3 linked regions of the Homo sapiens genome follow. The protein of the gene in region 2 purifies or fractionates together with the protein of the main gene of each other region. This does not show direct contact. Each region holds a gene or a part of one and is shown on either strand. Other genes may lie near its edges.

What was found.
Region 1: the proteins of SLC16A2 (region 2) and NAPG purify together in Homo sapiens (affinity purification with mass spectrometry; one large-scale study listed by BioGRID and IntAct). This does not show direct contact.
Region 3: the proteins of SLC16A2 (region 2) and TUBGCP2 purify together in Homo sapiens (affinity purification with mass spectrometry; one large-scale study listed by BioGRID and IntAct). This does not show direct contact.

The regions. Positions count from the first base shown.
Region 1 is NC_000018.10:10,539,517-10,543,167, forward strand, and holds part of NAPG (gamma-soluble NSF attachment protein), read left to right. Parts: intron 1-245; coding exon 246-355; intron 356-471; coding exon 472-538; intron 539-812; coding exon 813-883; intron 884-3,651. UniProt on the Homo sapiens protein: Required for vesicular transport between the endoplasmic reticulum and the Golgi apparatus.
Region 2 is NC_000023.11:74,525,842-74,529,492, forward strand, and holds part of SLC16A2 (monocarboxylate transporter 8), read left to right. Parts: coding exon 1-52; intron 53-3,371; coding exon 3,372-3,600; intron 3,601-3,651. UniProt on the Homo sapiens protein: Specific thyroid hormone transmembrane transporter, that mediates both uptake and efflux of thyroid hormones across the cell membrane independently of pH or a Na(+) gradient.
Region 3 is NC_000010.11:133,291,845-133,295,495, reverse strand, and holds part of TUBGCP2 (gamma-tubulin complex component 2), read left to right. Parts: intron 1-1,726; coding exon 1,727-1,934; intron 1,935-2,257; coding exon 2,258-2,457; intron 2,458-2,807; coding exon 2,808-2,997; intron 2,998-3,448; exon of another isoform or gene 3,449-3,651. UniProt on the Homo sapiens protein: Component of the gamma-tubulin ring complex (gTuRC) which mediates microtubule nucleation.

The sequences.
Region 1 (3,651 bases), on a different chromosome or scaffold from region 2:
TGGGGAATAAGGGGAGGGAGAGCACTAGGACAAATACCTAATGCATGCGGGGCTTAAAACCTAGATGATGGGTTGATAGGTATAGCAAACCACCATGGGACATGTATACCTATGTAACAAACCTGCACATTCTGCACATGTGTCCCAGAACTTAAAATAAAAAATAATTGCATTTCAGATTGTTAACTCTGTTTTTCTTTAATTGATGCATTTGCTGACCTGTCTACTGTATCCTTTGCCCAAAGGAGATGCAGAAACTACCAGAGGCCGTTCAGCTAATTGAGAAGGCCAGCATGATGTATCTAGAAAACGGCACCCCAGACACAGCAGCCATGGCTTTGGAGCGAGCTGGAAAGTGAGTGTGAGATGGACAAGTCTCTGCATAGAAGTCTTGTCTTTTTGTTTTAAAGAGGTCCCTGAAAAACAAGTTTTCCATTTCTCATATAAGACATGTTTTCTTGTCTGATTCAGGCTTATAGAAAATGTTGATCCAGAGAAGGCTGTACAGTTATATCAACAGACAGCTAATGTGTTTGAAGTAAGTTTGAATCTTATTTTTTTCTTTAATTACTTAGAATGTTTAGATTAATAATATATAGGAAAATAGAGAAGTGCAGTGGCTACTTTTAAAACTTTTCCCTGCTCACAGTTGCACGCTATTTCTTTTCTGTTAGAGAGTAGTGAAATGAACTAGCAGCTTTCGTGTTCCCCCCTTGATCCAGTGCCATTACTTCTTTACAAAATAAATATTAGGGGATAAAAACATTTCAACATTAAAGCAGCCAACACTTGTTTTTCTTTGATTCCTTCAGAATGAAGAACGCTTACGACAGGCAGTTGAATTACTAGGAAAAGCCTCCAGACTACTAGTACGAGGACGTAGGTATGTCTTTAAAAACTATTGCTGTGTGTTTAACTATACTTTGAATCCACATTTGGAACTGGAAAGTAATTTGGGGGATAGCTTGTTAATTTTTTGGTATAAGCTGTAGACACACCAGGCCACACAATAGAATATTAACATTTACTAGACAGTAGGCACACTGAATTAGATATTAAAAGATCTGCTGTTTTTTGAAAGTGTAATGCCCAAATTTATCATGCACTGTGCTTTTATTGGTTGAACCCTGGCTCAGCAACATGAAAGGGAACAGTTTCCTTCATCTGTTACTTGGTTGGATTATAATATCTCTCTCAAGGAAAAATAAGAATATTAGGATAAATGACAAAGATGCATAAACACTCACCCATGAAAACTGACAGGTTCTTGACAAATAGTGTCATTATTAGAATATTTACCTTGTTATCGTTTCACATATGACCTGAAGCACAAATAGTTGAACCTCAGAAAGCTAAAATCCTATTGGGATTTCCTTTTGTTTTTTTACTTTATCTCAGTTTACTTTTAGTAAACAATTTTTTTCATTAATAAAATTCTGTCTCAATAATATTTAAGATAAACATCTCTAGGAGATTGTAAGTCTGCAGATATCTTAATTGAAATTTGTCCAAAGCTTCCCAGTAACAGAAAACACCCAAGATCCATTTAATATGTCAAGGAATCAAAATAGAAATGACTGATGAATCTATCCTATCTGAGACTGAATTAAATTTTTTCTTCATGAAGACTGCAGATTCTGAAATACAATTTAAACCGGTCTAGAGTAATATGAGAATAAATTAATCTAGAATTAACTATTAAACAATCTCATTTAGATTAATTTGTTTATAGGACCTTCCTTCACTGAGGAGTATTTTTTTGTCTAAATGGAATAGAAATTTCATTTTGTTTTTAAATTAGGACTTTAATCATGAAGGAAAGTTTAATTTAAATGTCAGTCCGGGGTCATTATCTTTATTCATCTTATTACTTACTCGTCGCTTCCCAGAAATCAGTGAATGAAATGCTAACTCTGACAAATCCCAACTTAAAAATGGTTCACTTTAGTTTCTGAAAGTGTTTGTTACAGCAGCAGAGCTGTTCTTGGTGATGGCGTTATGGCTGTGGCAAAATAGCTGAACTGTGAGGTGATACCAAGGTTCTGACTTGTGAGCAGGGGCCCCATGTCTTAGAAACAGTGTCCTTCATTCTTTTCAGGGCAGCTAGGAGGCAAGTTTTAGCATAGTTTACCTCCTTTCTCTTCTGTTCTCATCTCCTGATGCTCCCCGACAAGACTCCCAGTGCCTTTCTAGAGCGCTAAGCCCCTTACTATAAGACCCCATGGAAGGTGAAGGAAGTGAAGTTGCAGGAAGGGGCAGAAGTTAAGGACAGCCCTGTGTGAAAGTCCAGACTGCATCAGCTCCCCTGAAGTATTTCTGCTTTCCACATCTTCTTTCCTTTTGTTTCTCAAGGTATAGATTATCTAAAGCTGTGTTGTAGAGGGAGTAGCAGGAAAGGAGAGAGGCCAGGATCTTTTCGGGGGAGGTCAGATGAGGAACGTTTTCCAGCTGCCTGTGCATATTCCTTTAGAAAGCTCCACTAGGGATGGGGGCCACCATCATCCTCAAAACATTACCAGTGTTGCCAGTCGGTTTGGACACATCTGATGAAAGCCATTGTTTTAAAGCAATTACTGTGTTAAATTCTTCAAAGCCTCAGCAGAGGGGAGAATGCTAGTTGAGTGAGCAGCAGAAGTGAGAATGCTGCGTAGATGTGCTCAAAGGGCACATTTATAAATCCAGGGCTTTTATTCGTGACTTTGTTTTATTGGTTTTTTTTTTTTCTTTTTAGGAAAAATGTATTTTAAAATGGTACTTTCTACTGTGCTCAACAAAAATGTTATGGAAATATATTTTTGAAGTGTATTAACAATATAAAAATTAATTTAAATTTGTGCAGGAACATGAAGGAATTTGATCTTTTGAAAAGTGTTGCTGGGTATCTTGGTATGAAAAAATTAAGTCTACTGTCATGGTACTTCTATTGGGAACTTAAATAGTGCAGGATAAGAAAAAACATGCAGTGTTTATAGTGATGGAGACATTATTGAGATGATTTATGTGATAATTGAAAATATTAACTATGTGCTTAGATTATTATTTGATTGCATCTGTTGCCTAAAAGAACTAAACAGGTGGTAATTTTATGCTTCACACAAGCAACATCTACTAATAGACTGTGTGGCATGGAGTCTAAAGTTTTATGTTTGTTATATTTAGTTAGTGCACTTATGTTTTTACATTAACATGAGTCCATAAGATGTCCTAATTTAATACTTTCTATGTTAGTGTAGCAAAGAATCTATTTAATATATTAATCTCTTGCTTCTCCTTCAGTTTTGGAGAGTCAAAATTCAGAAGTGATTCGTAGTTTCATTTAGATTACATCTGGGAAAAGTCAGTCCAAGGCCAGTGCCCTTGTTCCTTTTTAGAAAAGGCCTTTCCAGGCTGGGTGCAGTGGCTCATGCCTGTAATCACAACACTTTGGGAGGCTGAGGCAGGCAGATCACCTGAGGTCAGAAGTTCAAGATTAGCCTTGGCCAAATGGTGAAACTCCTTCTCTACTAAAAATACAAAAAGTAGCCGGGTGTGATGACGCACACCTATAATCCCAGCTACTCGGGAGGCTGGAGAATCGCTTGAACCCAGGAGGCACAGGTTGCAGTGAGACTCCCATCTCAAAAAAAAAAAAAAAGAAAAGAAAAGAAAAAA
Region 2 (3,651 bases):
GTCAGGCCACATCAGTGACTCCATCCCTGGACTTAAGAAGATCTACTTGCAGGTGAGTGTGACCACTTGTCCACTGTGGGGAGAAACAGCCTGCCACAAATGCAAGGTTATCCACAGCCTTTGGGATAGAATGGTAGCTTGTTGTGTCGCATGGGAAAGTCAATCAAATTCTCTGAGCCTCCATTTCACCTGCTTTTAAACAAAGAAAATCATCCTTGTTCTGCCTCTTTTACCAAGATTGAGTGAGGATTCTGTGAGAGCAGTGTATATGGAACCTATTAGAACACGTGTAAAGGAAGATTTTATTAATAATGGCTCTCCATGCTCCAAGACTATTTTCTGTGTGAACTAGGCTCTGGTCTGGTCTGAATACAGGCCACTGTTCAGGCTGTCAGTCTTTATCTACCTGGCAGCAGTATTGCCTTTCTTACCTGACTTATGATCCTGCAGGTGGGTTTATGAAGTGGTACCCAAGTGCAGAGCCCTGTGAAGGGGCAAAGATAGCCCCCAAAATCAAGTAGTCACAAGTAATCCATCAGGAAGGTGATTGAGTTCTGACTCATTTATCTCCTGGGAAAGCCCTAAAAGCACATGCAAGGGGCCCTAGCTACACTTACAGTGGTGATTTCTCTGTCTCTGATAGCCCCAAGTGCCCTCCTAAGTACCCTCAAATATCTTGGATGGAAATATGATTAACTTTTCCTTAACTTTTTTGGTGTTAGATTACAAGAGTTGGTAAATCTGCTTTGTCAGAGGCAGGGTTGCTTTTAAGGTCCATCCAATCCAACCTCATTACAGTGGTGGAGAAACAGAGGGAAAGGCTCACACAGACAGTAGTAGCAGAGCTGAACTCCTATGCAACACACTTCTCATATTCTACCTTGCCCTAAGTGATGGCAGAGCCAAGTCTCAGAGATGATAAGTGACTTGACCAAGGTCAAACCAAGAGATAATCTTGTGATTGAGATAAACCAATTGAGATTTTGAATTCCTGTGCAAATATCAGCAAGTGCTTTATCTGGGTGGCTATTTGCATAGGAATATGTGTGGCTTTCCCAGCCTCACCCACATGACACCCCTGTGAGTCTTCCCTGCCAGTATTAGCAGCTCCAAGATGCCAAAGAGTTCTGGAAATCAGGGTAATCTGGCATTGGGCCAGGGCTTTATCTTGAGAAGAGGCAGCAGCCCCTGCCTAGTCGTATAACTCATGTGATTCTTACTACAGTCCCTAGGAGAAAGGTAGAGTCTGAGCAGCTTTTGCTTTCTGTTATACAGTGGGAGTCCAAGGGACAGGGAGGCATTAGCCAGTTAGAGGCCAAGATAGGCTTAGGACCCAGTGCCTCTGCTGACCACCCACCCACTGCTCCTGCCCCTTTTCCTTACTCTTACTTCACCGAGTTTTACTTAGAATAATATAAAATAATCTTAGAACATTATAGCTGAAACATATCTTCATCAACTAGTAGTTGAACTTCCTCATTTTACAAATTGAGTGTCTTGGGCCAAGAGCACAAGACAATGGATGAACTTCTTTCTCTTGAGTTTGTTAAGATACTCCATCACAGGAATTTGCCCCCCTTTCTCCCTGCATGTAATGCAGGAGTACAGGCCTAGGGGAGGAAACGAGTGTACACACCTTCAGGTTCTGAAGAGCTATCCACTAGACTCTGTGGCTCTTAATGTTGGTAAAGACAAGCACATATCTCTGGCTTCAAGCCCCTGGACAGTCTGCTGGAAAGGAAATAGCGACAGGCTGCAGGACAGCCTCACTTTGTGCCAATTCTTGAGGCCTGTTTCTCACGTCCAAGAGGGATTTTAAATTTCTGAATCTTGAGGCCTGTTTCTCACGTCCAAGAGAGATTTTAAATTTCTGAACCTTGGCAAAGCCTCATGGAGGATGTTTAACAGACAGCTAGATACAATAGGTAATACTTAGACCTGATTAAAATCAGTTAATAGGGTCCTTTGTGTTATATAATGGTATTAACTTTTAATTTCCATAATGGGCTTTGTTGATAGGTGTGTCTGGTTTTATCCCATAGTTGTGTGTGAATCTCTTAGAGGAGAAGCTCAGGTACCGGGGTTCTTATTCCTAGCTTCTGCCTAGCTACCTCAAAACTGCCTGGGCAAAGTTCAAAGTCTCCCAACAAAAAGATGTCCTCAGATGGCATTATCCTCTCCAAAAATCAACTGATCAACCTAAAAAACTCACTGCCAGCAACAACATAGAAAATCTTTAGGGCACCAAATAACCTTGACCCCCACTCCTTCCATGTGTTCTTGGCTAAGTTGGCTTGCTTGTGTGAACTACTGGAAAATCCTTGGGCCTATTAAGGCCTTGATAGAGAGATCAGATCTTAGCCCTGACCCTGGGATGACCTGGCTCTGACCTGGCTCTACTGGCTGCAGGGGGTTGGCAGCAGCGGGATGGGGGCAGGGTTCCTTTCTCTGCCTGAAGCCCAGGTCTTCAGTCTAGCTGGCCAACACAGGTTGCAAATGAAGACCAGCTGTGTTTGCAGCAGCCCTTTTCTCTGTGGAGAAGGAAAAAAAAAACAACCTCTGGAAAGGCAGTTTCTTCATTTTGGAGTCATTTTGCTTAGCCCAGAGAAAGCCCAGTGGCTAGTCAGTGTTCCTGGGTTGGCTTCATTCTCCCTAGACATACACCTTCCCAGTGGCTTGGTTCCCCTGGAAGGCTCCTCTGTTGCCTTCTCAGGGTGTCCAGCCAAGCCCAGAGGCCCCCAGAGCCATGTGTCTGAGATGTCTGAGATAGGCAGTGCAGTCCATGTCCTAAAGCATAGGAACCTGGGTGAATGTCCCAATGGTTTCCTTTATGCCAAGGTATTTTATAAAATCAGCCCCCACAAAAATGGGCTCTGGCTCCTTCCCCATTTCAAGAAGCTGTGCCTTCCACTTACAACCCCATCTGATCATCATGCAAGCCATCCTCATGTCCTCCCTTCCCTCTTTCCATATTTTACTTGGATCTGAGAACACCGGTATGGCCTGATCCCAGACCCTGATCCCTGGGGAAGCCAAATACAGGCTCAGAAAGCAGAAACAACAATTCCTTTTATCTTAGGGTCTAGTGCAAGACAAACTTCTTGAGGCCAGGGGCCAAGTATCCCCCAACTTTCTTTTTTTAATCCCAACAGAATCACAGTTAAGTAGGGGCTTTCTTGGACTTTGAATCCCTCAGTGCAAGACTTTGAAAGGGCCTAACCATTCAGCCCAACTGCTCTCTCTGTTGACACCTTCCCCCTCCCACCACCCCATTTTATAGATGGTAGAAATGAAGACTTGAGAAAGGAGATGTGATGCTATGTGGTCTTGGCTGGCCAGCACAACCTGACCTCAGGCCCTTGTTTCTCCAGGTCCTTTCCTTCCTGCTCCTGGGCCTGATGTCCATGATGATTCCCCTGTGCCGGGACTTCGGGGGCCTTATCGTCGTCTGTCTTTTCCTGGGCCTTTGCGATGGCTTCTTCATCACCATCATGGCCCCCATTGCATTTGAGCTGGTGGGCCCAATGCAGGCCTCACAGGCCATTGGCTACCTCCTGGGCATGATGGCCCTGCCAATGATTGCTGGGCCCCCCATTGCAGGTGAGGCTGATATTCCAGGGAGGGCATGAATCAGGGAGTCCTTTTTTCCCT
Region 3 (3,651 bases), on a different chromosome or scaffold from region 2:
GAGGATGTTGAATATTGGGGAGGTGAAGCAACTGACTCTTTTTTTGCTTGAGACAGGGTCTCACTTCGTTGCCTAGGCTGGAGTGCAGTGGCACAATCTCAGCTCACTGCAGCCTCGACCTCCCAAGCTCAGGTGATTCTCCCACCTCAGCCTCCCGAGTAGCTGGGACTGCAGGTGTGCACCATCACACGCAGCTAATTTCTGTATTTTCAGTAGAGACGGGGATTCGCCGTGTTGCCCAGGCTGGTCTTGAACTCCTGGAGTCAAGCGATCTGTCCACCTTGGCCTCCTAAAGTGATGGGATTACAGGTGTGAGCCACCATACCCGGCCTAAAGCAACCCTTGAGGTCCCTCCACAGCCAGGCGGCTGGATCCACACTAACCCCCACCCCACGGCACCTCCACCCCACCGTGAGGCTTCTCCCCACAAGGGCATTGGCCGAGGCTTCGTGGCTGTGGATGAATGAGGCCAACATGGTGGAAAGTAAGTGATGCAGAGTCAGAGGCAGTTCCTGGAAGATGCACTCGCTGTTCCCAAAACGCCAAGCCACACCCACTCCTTTAGGGATGGTAGACATTGGGGTCTCGGTTTTATTGGTCATCCTGAGAAGGCCACTGGAGTAATAGAAAGAAATGGAATTTGAAGTTGAAAAGTGTAGATCTGCCAGCCTGGGCAACACGGCAAGACCCCACCTTTACAAAAAATTTAAAAATTAGCCAGGAATGGTGGCACGTGCCAGTGGTCCCAGCTCCGAGGGAGACTAAGGATACAGGATCGCTTGAGCCTGGGTGCTCAAGGCTGCAGTGAGCTGAGATTGCACCACTGCCCTCCAGACTGGGTGACAGAGTGAGATTTGTCTCAAAAATAAAAAAAGGAAAAAAAAAAAACAAGGACAGTGTGGATCTGCATCAGGATTGAGGCTTTCGCTGAAGGGCTTGCGTTGGTGACGGATTGTAGTCTTGAGGCCTGCAGTCACAGGACACTTCCCAGCAGATGTGTGAGGCTGACAGAGTGATTTTGTAAACCGAAAGCCTGTTGTACGGAGCCTTCCTGAGCTGCCAGGGCCTGGTTTGGGTATGGTCTGGCTGGCACGGGGCCCTGTCAGGCCCTCGTGGGGACAGTTTCAACATCCTGCTTTCGTCTGGTGCTCCTCCCGGCCCCCCAGGCATGGCCCGCCTGAGGCTGTGGACTGAGAACTTGGTCCTGGGACCTGAGGGGTTTGGTGGGTGGCGGCCCGTGGCCGTCCTCGTGAGGAAGCTTAGCTGTGTGTCCTGCAGCCGTCTCATCCTCTCTGGATAGAAATTATCAAGAGTTTCTTAACGTTTAAGTGATAGCTTTTTAAAGACAAGGTTTTTTGTCCCAGAGTAACTCAGACTTACCAAGTTGTACTTACCAATGTTGAAAGTGCAGCTTCTGCTGGAGTCGCCTTTTCAACTCCTAACTTCACCTTTTCAAATGTCAGCCATGTATCTGAGCATTGCGGAGCCGAGTGTGGTGAGATCTTGACACCAGCCACCACGCCTCCCAGGCCGGCCCCGTCCTGCGGCGGTTGGAACTCAGCCTGTGGCTCCCCAGTGGGGTCAGTCAAAGCCAAGTGCAGTGGCTGACCTTTTATACCCATAAACAAAGATGAGCAAGAGTGAGACTGACCCGCAGATGAGGGCACGTGGCTGTGGGGGCATGGGAGTGGGGGCTGCAGAGCCACAGCGCTGTCTGTGCCCGCAGGCACGTTGCCCCTGGCCTCGCAGGAGTCGGCCGTGGTGGAGGACCTGCTGTACGTGCTGGTGGGCGTGGACGGGAGGTACGTCAGTGCTCAGCCCCTGGCTGGGAGGCAGAGCCGGACCTTCCTCGTGGACCCCAACCTGGACCTGTCCATCAGGGAGCTGGTGCACAGGATCCTCCCAGTGGCCGCCAGCTACTCCGCTGTGACCAGGTGGGCACCGGGCGCGGTCCCTGGGAGCCTGCGCTGTTGTGGGGGAGGGGTTAGGTCCCATCCTGATGACCATGGGGACGTCTGCATCGCTTCTAAAGAGAGCGCCCGCCTTGGTGACAACTCCGTGCCCAACTCAGTTTTGGAGGGTCTGTGAGTCACCATCCAGGGTCCTGACTCATCTCCTCCTGGGGCAAAAGTTCCCCTCTGGGATGTGGGGTTCAAGTGAGTCATTTGCTTCCTGTTTGGGATGAGACTCAGAATATCGGACATTGTATGTGCCTGCAGCTTGCCTTTTTGAGGAAGTCTGACAGCTTTTCTTCCAGGTTCATTGAAGAGAAGTCTTCCTTCGAGTACGGGCAGGTGAACCACGCCCTGGCGGCCGCCATGCGCACCCTGGTGAAGGAGCACCTGATTCTGGTGTCACAGCTGGAGCAGCTGCACAGGCAGGGCCTCCTTTCGCTGCAGAAGCTCTGGTTCTACATCCAGCCAGCCATGCGCACCATGGACATCCTGGCCTCCCTCGGTGCGTGCCCGCCCGGGGGGCATGGGGCAGTGGTGGGTGGCAGGTGTTGAACATGGCACCCAGTGTGAGGAGAGACTCTGCAGGGGCCGTGGAGCAGCTGCCCAGGGCAGGGGCGTGTGGCCAAAGCTCATGTTGCTCCATGTGCTATTAACTTGCAAGAGGAAAGCCCTGGAAGCTCTTACTGGTCAGCTGAAATCAGCAACTACAACCTTACAGTTAATACGTATCCCAAAGAAGCAGCACCGTCCCAGGAAGAAGGTTGGAGAAGCATGAGGGGCCCCAGCAGTGTTGTTGGCAGAGGCTGGGCGTGCGCTTCCTTCTCAGCAGTGAGCCCTCCTTTCTCCCCACAGCCACCTCGGTGGACAAAGGCGAATGTCTTGGGGGGTCCACGCTGAGCCTGCTCCACGACAGGAGCTTCAGCTACACAGGGGACAGCCAGGCGCAGGAGCTATGCCTGTACCTAACCAAGGCGGCCAGTGCTCCCTACTTCGAGGTTCTGGAGAAGTGGATCTACAGGGGCATCATCCACGACCCATACAGGTAGGGCTCCCCGGGACACGGGGACACGGAGGGACACGGGGACACGGAGGGACATGGGGGACACGGAGTGTGCATGCTGCCCTCTCCCGTACAGGTAGGGCTCCCCGGGACACGGGGACACGGGGGACACGGAGGGACACGGGGGACACGGAGTGTGCATGCTGCCCTCTCCCGTACAGGTAGGGCTCCCCGGGACACGGGGACATGGGGGACACGGAGGGACACGGGGGACACGGAGTGTGCATGCTGCCCTCTCCCGTACAGGTAGGGCTCCCCGGGACACGGGGACATGGGGGACACGGAGGGACACGGGGGACACGGAGTGTGCATGCTGCCCTCTCCCGTACAGGTAGGGCTCCCCGGGACACGGGGACATGGGGGACATGGGGGACACGGAGGGACACGGAGGGACACGGAGGGACACGGGGGACACGGAGGGACATGGGGGACACGGAGGGACACGGAGGGACACAGAGGGACATGGGGGACACGGAGGGTGCGTGCTGCCCTCTCCCGTACAGGTAGGGCTCCCCGGGACACGGGGACACGGAGGGACACGGAGGGACATGGGGGACACGGAGGGACATGGGGGACACGGACGGTGCATGCTGCCCTCTCCCGTACAGGTAGGGCTCCCCGGGACACAGGGACACG